Linked DNA regions of Homo sapiens: region 2 is linked to region 1. The links come from fine-mapping of genetic effects on gene expression. A gene starts in region 1. The other region holds a variant in brackets. All regions are shown on one strand. Distances are between the middles of the regions.

Evidence for each region. PIP is the estimated chance that this variant, and not a neighbour inherited with it, causes the effect. A credible set is the group of variants that fine-mapping cannot tell apart.
Region 2: its variant is the best candidate, but not a certain one, in a credible set for the expression of LINC00658 in caudate (GTEx, PIP 0.64).

What each region holds. Positions count from the first base shown.
Region 1 is chr20:5,443,591-5,448,966 of GRCh38, reverse strand. It overlaps LINC00658 (long intergenic non-protein coding RNA 658), which reads left to right and starts at 3,219. Exons shown (of 5, transcript NR_038240.1): 1 at 3,219-3,463.
Region 2 is chr20:5,500,770-5,506,145 of GRCh38, reverse strand. It overlaps LINC00654 (long intergenic non-protein coding RNA 654), which reads left to right and starts at 1,550. Exons shown (of 2, transcript NR_015406.2): 1 at 1,550-1,848; 2 at 4,283-5,376. It overlaps LOC124904863 (a long non-coding RNA gene), which reads right to left. Exons shown (of 3, transcript XR_007067509.1): 3 at 3,544-3,599. RefSeq lists an enhancer at 1,695-1,804. The variant C/A (reference allele first, on the strand shown) is at 2,072.

The DNA.
Region 1 (5,376 bases):
TGTATGCCTGTCTCACCCAGTTAACTTAAATTCCTTGGGGTCAGGAACAATGCTTTCTTCTTATTTTCCATGCCACAGCTCCAGTTACTGTGACTGACACACAGAAATATTGGCTTGGAGTCGATTATCTCAGGGATGCAGCTCAAAGTAAATGTGTCTTGTATAGAGTGGGCATAGGGATGCTTTAATGAGGAACGAGCAAGTCCCAAGAGGAGCAAGGAAAACTTGAGCTGCAACCACTTTGCATTTCAGATGATGAATTAGAGCGGTTGTTATCGAATCTGCCACCAGAGGGCGATCCAGGTAAAAAAGATCTTCGGGCTACTCTTCAGCCCGGTGACCTGATCTTCCCCCAAACTCAGATCCTTGCTGCCTCCCAGAAACAGCAGACACCTAAGTCCAATGTAGCTTGCCAGGATCTCAGGGAATGAAATTTTATAGTTTGCTGGCATTTTCCTCAGGGGAGCAGAGGCAAGAAAACAATCAAATCCAAGTTTGCGCCACTGCACACCAGCCTGGGCGACAAAGCAAGACTCCCGTCTCAAAAAAAAAAAAAAAAGAAAAGAAAAGAAAAGAAAAGAAAAGAAAGAAAACAATCAAATCCATGGTCTGCTGTTTACTGGATGAAGAATAAGACTGCCTAAAGGCAATGTGTTTAGTACAAAGGTGTCATAAGCTCTGAGATGGTTCCTGCTTTACCAATTTCTGGAAGTGTGACATTAAAGCAACCATTCTCTTTTCTGGGCCTGGTTTTCCTCTGTAAAATGTCAGTTCAAGTTCCAGCCTGTCTTGGGATGTCATCGGCCTTTACAACCTACTTGGGCTATGGCCCTGCGATTAAGTGCACAGTGGAAGCTTAGTCCCCTTGCTTTTCTGCCTCTCTTAGGGAACCACAGTCACAGAAACCAGCACTTGCTGCCATAGGAACTGCTAATATCTTGGACATTCCCTGTATTCTCTCCCAGCCCAAACAGGCATAGCCAGAGGAGTGAGACATGCAGAAAAATGAAAGAAGCCCAGGGCATTGTTCAGCAGTGAGCCTAAAGTCTGTACATGCGATAGCATAATATTTGTGAAAATTCTTGCAAAATGCAAAGCTGATGGCATATGACTTGTAACTCATTCTTGTATATAACAGTAGATCAACATGCAACTGAAGAAAGCACTACTCAGGATGGAAGTAGCCTTGGGAGGGAGGCAAGGAGTAGTGAGGAGGGAGAGAATGAGCTGTTTCTGTAACATTTCATTTCATAAGAGAGATGGATGGACTTCAAGCATCTGTGGCAAAAGGTCACCTCAGATAAATCTGATTGGTTCCAAATTATTTTCTGTAATCCTCCCTATGTTTGACTCATTATTTTAATTAAAAAGAAAAAATATTTAAAGTAATTTTAAAAATAACAGAGCTCACCAGCCCCTTAGAGCGCAGCTTGGTCTAGGGTAGTTTCTTTAACTAGCAGAGCTTTCTGTAGATACAGACATGCGTTCACAAAGTATCTTTAGGTTTCCCAGGCCCGGAGGGGTGAGATAATACTAAGGGAGGGAGATCTGCTCTTGGAGGAGGGACCTGCTCTAACCAGCCCTGTAGCTCTGCAAATCTTTGGGATTTTGTCCTTATCTGTAAATAGGGATGACGTTTGTCCCATTTATCTCATTCAGTTATAATGTGCATCAGATAAGATGATATTTGTAAAAACAACTTGAAAATACAAAATGATGTACACAGGTATTATTTAGTTGTGAAGCTCTAAGTCCTGAGGCCTCGTTTATATTAACAATAGCAATAAAAATAACAATACAGACTGGGCGTGGTGGCTTACACCTGTAATCCCAGCACTTTGGGAGGCCAAAGCGTGCAGATGACGAGGTCAGGAGTTTGAGACCAGCCTGGAGAGTATGGTGAAACTCAGTCTCTACTAAAAATACAAAAATTAGCCGGACATGGTGGCGTGCGCCTGTAGTCCCAGCTACTCGGGATGCTGAGGCAGAAGAATCGCTTGAACTCGGGAGACGGAGGTTGCAGTGAGCTGAGATCTCACCACTGCACTCCAGCCTGGGTGATAGAGTGAGAATCTGTCTCAAAAACAAACAAAAACAAACAAACAAAAAACAATACAATGGCAAGGGAAGAAATAAAAGGAGGGTGTCTAATGTGGTAAGGAGGGAAGGAAAAATGAAGAAAGAAGAAAAACCTATTGAAAATAGCCAAGAAAACAGCTGCCCTTCTAAGATACTGACTTGAGGGCTTTCAAAATAATGGAAATTATGCTTCACAAAAAATAATCCCAATGGTCATGGTCATTAGAATTTAGAACAATATTTATATGGCTCCCTGTGGTGAATCAACAATTATTTTCTATGGCTTCAATTTTCAGAGTTTAAATAATGAACATAGCAATACCACCAAAGAAACATTCATTAAATATCAATATAAAATAAAGTGGAAGAAAAAGAGAAAAACAGCAAGCTGCTGATTGCAGTGTTTGCAACCGAGACTCTGTTCTGCAAACCCTGGGGGATCAGCGTGGATTGAGCTATTACTAGAGGTTGGGGTTAAACACGGTAGGCTATAGACTTTCTGGGGGAGAAACCAGTCAATTTCTATTCTGAAAACCTGGCACTGCCTAAGAAAATCCAAACCCTTCAAACAGAAGCTTCGCAAGAGTGTAGTTAATGGCATAAAAGAGTGCTCAGAAACTCACCCACAGAGACTTTCTGATAGCTGATGCCAGGAACAGCAAAAAGCAGAATGTCCAGTTAGGGATAGTTAACCAAGCCCCTCTCAATTCTTCTTCTTGAGGCTATCCTCTCCTCACTGGTCCCCATTTTATAATCATGCTCAAGGAGCCTAGGCTTCTCTTCTTCTCTTACAGCATGTTTAATATCACTACTTTATCCATTCTGTACTGTTGCAGGCTGAAGGTGACATTACACTTAGAGGGATCCACAGATTCAAGAGGCTGCTTGGGGAGGGCAGCACAGTGAAGTACAAGGACTTTGACATCAGAGAGGCCTGGATTCAAGTCCCAATTTCTGTGTGTGGTAACCAGTCTGCAAGACAGCCTGTGATGGTTCCTGCCTCCTCGTATTCATGTCCTTCTTAGTTCCCTTGCGCATTGAATCAGGGCTGGCTCTGGGTGACCAATAGAATGTGGAGGAAGTGATGGGGTGTGAATTCCGAGGCTAGGTCACAAAAGGCATTGTATCTTCCACCTCTTAGATCTCTCTCTCTGCGGAAGCCAGCCACCGCTCTCCAAGGACTCTCGAGCAGCTCCATCTACAGATTCACATGGAGAAGAATTAAGGGTTCCTGCCAATCACCAGCACCACTTTGCCAGCCTTGTAAGTGGGCCACCTTGGAATTGGAGCCTCCAGTTCCTACTGACATCTGACTGCAACATCATGAGAGACCCTGAGTTTGAACCACCCAGCTGAGCTGCTTCTGAGCTAACCCACTGAAACCGTGAGAAATAATTATTGTTTCAAATCCTAAATTTGGGAGTGATATGTTATATAGCCATATTAACAAGAACTTAACCTAAGTATTGGGGGCATTTAGGGCTGATATTCATTTGGGAGGCACCTGTACAGCTGTATCAATTGTTCAATTATTTAAATATTTCTAAGTTGCTTGGTAAAAAGTCCTGTGCTTGAATTAACCTGATCTTGAATTGCAAGCTCCCTGAGGTGCCTTGCAAAGACAAATCAAATCCTCCTCAGAGGAAGGTAACATTATCCTTGCCCTCAAATTATTTCAACAAGTATTTTACAAATACCATGTTCAGCACACAACCAAAGATAAACTGACATATGGTTAAAAACAGAATGTTTTTAGACACCCAGAAGACATCCTTCACTGAGGGCTTATGTGATAGAAAAATTAAGCATATGATGACAATGGATTCAGTGTATGGCCCGGAGAAAGAAACCAAAAGTTGGGAAAGGTGTAAATGGCCCTAATGGGAAAGGAAAGAGGCTTCCATTGCTTCCCAAGACTGGGACCCATCTCTAAGAATCACAGAGAACAAATCTGTCTCCTTGCTGTTCTCCAGAGGGTAGTTGGACCTCAGATGGGTTAACCAGAGAACCAGGACCCCCAGAGCGCAAACTCCCATTTTTCTGAACATTCCCATGTCCAAGTTTGTCTGGAGAACATCCAAGTTGCCTCTTCAAGGTAGCCGGCGCCATGGACCTTTAAAAGGGACCAAAGTGTTCAGAGGACCAGGAATCCTTACTTGAATGTTCTAGACTGCAAGACACCTAGAGATTCGTAGAAAACATGACTGAGGGAAAGTGCTCCTCTAACCTGAAGGATGGAGACTTAGACCAGCTAGTATCAGATTGAGGGGAAAAAATGAGGTTTTGTTTTTTTTTTCACCAAGTATGTAAAAAAATTAAAACCCACTGTAGAATATTAGCAAGATCTTCAACAAGTCTCTCATTATACAGATGAGGAAATTAAGAACCAGGAGGTTAGAAATTCAGTCCCAGCATGCTGACTCACAGAACATATGTGGACTTTTCTTATACTCCACTGCTCTGATGAATATTGTTAAACACTATTTCTTCCTTACTCTTAGGATATCAGGGCCTTGAATGTCACAGACTACCTGGCACTTGTTTCCCAACAAGCTAATATTGACCCACACAAACTGAAAGCCTCAATTTGACATTATTTGTAGCATCCCCTTGTCCTTTTCTTTCTAAACCCAAATTCCAGTATCCACTGCAACCTTCTAGGTAGGCATCCGCAAAAGGTCTTTCTTCTGATCCTGCCAACTCATCATGGTGCATGGTTTTGAGTAGTGCCATAGAGAATATCTTAATTTCTCTGAGCTTTAGTTAAGAGTGATATACACTGGAAACAAGGAGCTTCCTGCTTCCTCTTTGTAAATTTTGATAAGAGATTCCCCAGTGGTCGGAATTTGCCAGGGACCCCCAGCCCCATTCATGCATGAGCTCTTTATCCCTAAAGATGATGAAGGAGAGCCTCAGTGCCTCTCTGCCAGTCTTGGGAGGCAGGAATGATCCAAATAATTTCAAAGATTTCTCCCAACTCTAAGAACTCTGGCCATATAGGGGGAGGAATGCATTAATTACTAAAAATAATTTAAAAAATGATTTAGTATAATTTCTGGGGTGCCTACTCTGTTTTACCAACTACCCCTTCCACCTCCATCTACCACCATGATTTTCATTATCTTCTCTGCACCTCCATGGCAACCTCTGTCGTGGTCTGGAGAAACTTAGCCTTCAATTCCAACTATCTGTCAAGACCTGAGCAAGTCCACTAACTCTTCTGAAACTCAGGCTCTTCAGTAAATGGGCCTAATGAAGAGGAAAGAGGCTTCCATTGCATCCCAAGACTCAGACCCA
Region 2 (5,376 bases), 57 kb before region 1:
ACGCACAATGAGATGCCACCTTCTACCCCTTAGGATGGCTATGATAAAATCTACAGACAAGAACAAGTGTTAGCAAGGATGGAGGAAAAAACCCTCATCACTGCTGGTGGGAATGTGAAATGGTGCAGCCACTTTAGAAAACAGATTGGCGGCCAGGTGCTGTGTCTCATGCCTGTAATCCCAGCAATTGGGAGGCCAAGATGGGTGGATTGCCTGAGGTCAGGAGTTCGAGAGCAGCCTGGGCAACATGATGAAACCCTGTCTCTACAAACAAACAAACAAACAAACAAAGAAACAAACAAAAAAACATTATGCAGGCATGGTGGCATGTTCCTGTAGTCTCAGCTACTTAAGGAGCTGAGACAGGAGGGTCACTTGAGCCCAGGAGGTTGATGCTGCAGTGAGTGGTGTTTGTGCCATTGCACTCCAGCCTGGGTGACAGAGTGAGACCACATCTCTGAAAAAAAAAAAAAAGAAAAAAAAAAAAAAAGAAGAGGGGAAACAGGTTGGCAATTCCTCTCAAAAACTACACAGTTATACTTTGACCCAGAAATTATACTCCTACTTATATAAGCAGAAATGAAAACATAAATCTACACAAACTTCTACACAAATGCTCATAGCAGCTTTATTCATAATAAACAGAAGTGGAAACAGTTCAAAAGTCCATCAGCTGATGACTGGATAAATATCATATATGCATACAAGGGAATATTTTTCAGTAAAAAACTAAGTTCTGGGCCAGGTGAGGCATCTCATGCCTGTAATGCTGATGCTTGCACCCGTGCAAGCATAGGTATTGCACAGGCTGAAGAAGGAGGATGGTTTCACCCCAAGAGTTCAAGACCAGCCTGGACAACATAGCAAGACCCCTTTCTCTACATATATATAGAAAATGTTCTCAAATTAGATGGTGCCGATGATTGCACAATTCTGTGACTATACTAAGAACCAGTGTATATTCTATTTTATTTCATTTTATTTTAGAGACAGGGTCTCACTCTGTCACCCAGGCTGGAGTGAAGTGGTGCGATTTCAGGTCACAGCAACTTCTATCTCCCAGGTTCAAGCGATTCTCCTGCCTCAGCCTCCCGAGTACCTGGGATTACAAGCACACACAACTATGCCTGGATATTTTTTGTATCTTTAGTAGAGACAGGGTTTTGCCATGTTGGCAAGGCTGGTCTTGAACTCATGACCTCAGGTGACCCGCCACCCCCATCCCCGCTGCCCCCTCGGCCTCCCAAAGTGCTGGGATTACAGGCGTGAGCCACCGCGCCGGGCCCATTGTACATTTTAAATGGGCGAATTACATCGTGTGTGAATTATAACTTAATAAAGCTGCTGGGAAAAAAAAGAAGATAAAAAAGTGAGGTGGATTAAAGGGCCCATAGAGGAAGCCACCTGACCCCCGGCCTGGCCTCCTTCTCGGCTCTTCCTCTCCGGGGGCCCAACAGGGCTGTGCGTTTGACAGGCAGTTGGGAGACCCTGGTGGCCGGTTTTGGTCGGTCACGTGGGCACGCGGCTGAGCCAATCAGAATCTCCCGGCAGTTGGTTCCCGGAGGCAGAATCTGTTAAACTGACAAAGCCCACGTCTCCGGGTCCCTGTCTCGGGGAGTCGGGACTATTGGGTCACCCCGGGTAGTCGAGACTCTAGACTGAGCTGTCTCGGTCACTCAGGAGGCAGTTGGCAGAGTATTCGTGGTCAGGGAGGTGACCCGTGGTCAGCAGGGTCAGGCCACCCAGGGACAAAGGGTGCTCCTGCACCGGGCCTTGGAGAAGGACAGAGCGGTGGGGACTTGGGGTCAGCGGGGGAGCCTCCGCGGATGGGGAGTCACCACCTGCCGGGTAAGAGGGGACTCATCACAGGGGCCGGAGCAAGACAAGCCCTCCCTCCCGGCTCAGGCCGGGTCCCAGGCTGGACCCCTCCCTGTCTCACAGGGCCGGCCTCCTTCGGAGCTGGCTGGGATGGAAAGGGGAAGTAGGAGGAGCTCAGGACACAGGGATTGGGGCCGATCCTGGGGTCTGAGCTGTGGGGTGAGGAGGGGATCGCCTGTCCCCTGGGGAGTGA[C/A]GATGTCACCCAGCCGTGGCCGTTGCGGAGGTCATGATCTGAACCTTGACAGGTAACCCCAGGGCTGCCTTCCTGTTCTTCTCCTGGGCTGTCAGGGGACACCCTGCTCTGTTTTGTTTTTAAGTGACCAGAGACAGACACGTAACATAGAAAACGCTATCACTTTGATCATTTGTTTCGAATGGAAGAAAAACCGACACAAGTGGGTTTCTGGTGGGAAGCGCTTCCCTCCAACTCCAGGAACTCCATCAAGGAGTTAAGAAAGCACAGAGTCCTGTCAGCAGCCAGAGACATGCTGGGCAGTGGTGACCTCGGAGCCACCCCGCGACATGGAGATCTCGAGCTCCGCCCTCCGTGCAGGGAGATTCCTTTTGGAAAAAATCTCTGGCAGAGTGGGAGGGTGTAGGGGCCAGCCACATACATGCTTGCTGCTAGGACCCCTTAGCCATGGGCAGGGTGGGCACAGTGACCAGGGCCAGGAAACTTACAGGCCCACCAAAGAGTGTCAATTTCAGTCAGAAGAAAAAAAAATTGAACTATGTGATTTTTTTTTTTTTTAAGACGCAGTCTTGCTCTGTCGCCCAGGCTGGAGTGCAGAGGCGTGATCTCGGCTCACTGCAAGCTCCTCCTCCCGGGTTCACGCCATTCTCCTGCCTCAGCCTCCCGGGTAGCTGGGACTACAGGAGCCCGCCACTGCGCCCGGCTAATTTTTTCTGTATTTTTAGTAGAGATGAGGTTTCACCGTGGTCTCGATCTCCTGACCTCGTGATCCACCCGCCTCGGCCTCCCAAAGTGCTGGGATTACAGGTGTGAGCCACCACGCCTGGCCTATGATATTAATATATTTATCATTATACCAGTAACTCATAAAATCAAATTTCAAACTTTTTCTTTCTTTTTTTTTTTTTTTTTTTTGAGACAGAGTCTTGCTGTGTTGCCAGGCTGGAGTGCAGTGGCTCCATCTCGGCTAACTGCAACCTCCTCCTCCCAGGTTCAAGCCATTCTTCTGCCTCAGCCTCCCGAGTAGCTGGGACTACAGCCACCCACCACCACGCCTGGCTACTTCTTTGTATTTTAGTAGAAACAGGGTTTTACCGTGTTGGTCAAGATGGTCTCGATCTCCTGACCTCGTAACCTGCCCGCCTTGGCCTCCCGAAGTGCTGGGATTACAGGTGTGAGCCACCGCACCCAGCAAACTTCAAACTTTTTAATGGAACAAGGACACACAGGCATTAATCCCCAGTGTCCATCAAAGTTGCAATGCAGCCCTAACGCCTGGCATCCTTGAAAGGGATGTGCATTTAGTAATGAGATTTGCTCAGCAGCGTAGTCAGCTGTGTGGTGCATTCTCAGCTGTGCCTCAGCAGCCCTGATGCAGACATCCAGAAGGAGCACAGCCACTTTATCCAGAGGTGAAGTTTTGCAGCAAGACAGCATTCATAGGGGGAGTTCTCAACAAATGTCAGTCCCCAAAAAGGGAACTGGCTTTATTATGGTCATTAGGATATTCACTCGTAGAGAACAGGACCTGACAGACAAAGCAAAGAATGAATACTAAGATTAGAAGTATTTGGCACATTTGGGATGAGAAGGAGGCACAGTGGGAAAGTGTTGAGTTGAAATCAAACTTGGGTTAAATGTGCTCAGTTTTGCCCAGGATCATTCTTGGCCACAGGACTCAGTTTGCTGAGCAGGTACACAACACACAAGGATACAAGCAGCCATTGCACACAGACACACCCACATCAGACACAACCTGCTCTCCTCTCCTCCCTGCACCAAGAGGCACATGTGGCAGGGGTCCTGGTGGAGCACTTCCAGGAGGAATGTCTGGGGACCCTCATGTGAAGGGAACTCCGTGTCAAGGCACCCCCTTTCCTCAGCCACAGTGAGCTCTTGGGAGCTGGGCAATGGTGTGGGAGAGGTTGTGGGGGATAGCAAAGCAGGGGAACCAGCCTGGAATTGTCTCAGAGAAAGACCAGGCCACTAAGAGTGCAGATGGAGACATGAGACATCCAAGGGAGGGAGGAGAGGGGACCCCCTCGTGAAACTGGGGCTCACGTAAACCTGCATCAAGCACTGCGGCAGTGTTCAATCAGAAATGCTGCCCAGTACCCAGGTGGGGCACATACATGCTCAACACGTGAAAAATATCTGTTCTGATTTGTGCTTCAGGAGAAGAGTTAATGTCTCCTTCATCTTTCTCTCTAGCAATCAGCCATGACTGCCTTTGCACTGTCCATGCTCTCAGCCCACCACCTCCTCCCCCTGCCATTGCAGTGGCTAACACTGGAGACGAAGACCAAGACACCACAGCCTTTCTCCAGTACCTCTCAAATCAGCACAGACAAGGACAAAGGCCTCAATCCACAACTGCTGAAGATGGACCCTGGCCACATGGGATGGTCAGACACGCCTGCCCAGCTATCTGCAGGCGAAGAGGCTCAGAAGAGGTTTAGGGGCCTGAAGGACATCTTGCTTCCATGTCCATATGAGCAGGCTATTTCTGCTCCATGAGTCAATTTTGCCATATAAAATACTTAATTTCAGCCATTCCAGGGTGCTATAGGATGCACAGCTTCCCATCAGCCCACCTGAACTCCAGCCATGCCATTTTAATACCAGGAATAAGGTCACCTGCTTTCCTGCCCCTTAGGAGGCCGGAGCCGTGGAAGCAAAATGGCACTTCTGTTTACCTGTTATATTATTTTTTTGTCATCCTTATATGTTTGAAAAATGCAATTATATGAAAAAAGTTTAGTAATTACAGACATAACAGCAGAAAGTCCTCGGAACCAAGCTTATTCTCATGGCCGATTCTGCTCCACCTGGGACTCTGCTGTGCTGCGGGCATCCTGTGGTCAGAATCGCAGAGGGGCCATCAGGGAGGACCTTCCCAGAGGATGGACCTCACGTGACTGCTGCGTGGGCAAGTGGCACTGGCCACTCTGCCTGGAGAGAGGAGTAAATGCAGGGCTGGCCAGGCGACCTGCACACTCTGCTACCGGCCTTGTCCATCTTTAGCCTCTAATTTGAAAATGAGGATCACACAGACCAAGAGTATCTTTGAGGGTTAGTACAGACCACAGAAATGCCCTGGGCCTTTCACTCTCTCCTTTTGCAAATTCCCATGTGTGGAAATGCCGTTTGGATAATGAGGGAGCCTGAAGGAGGTGGACACATGAGCAGCCCCGACAGGCCTGGCTCCATCCTCTGAAAATGGGGCCCCGTGCCCGGCGTGTGGCCTTACTGGTTCAGTCTTCTTTACAGTGGTAGGTTTTGAGTGCCCAGATGCCCAGTGCCTC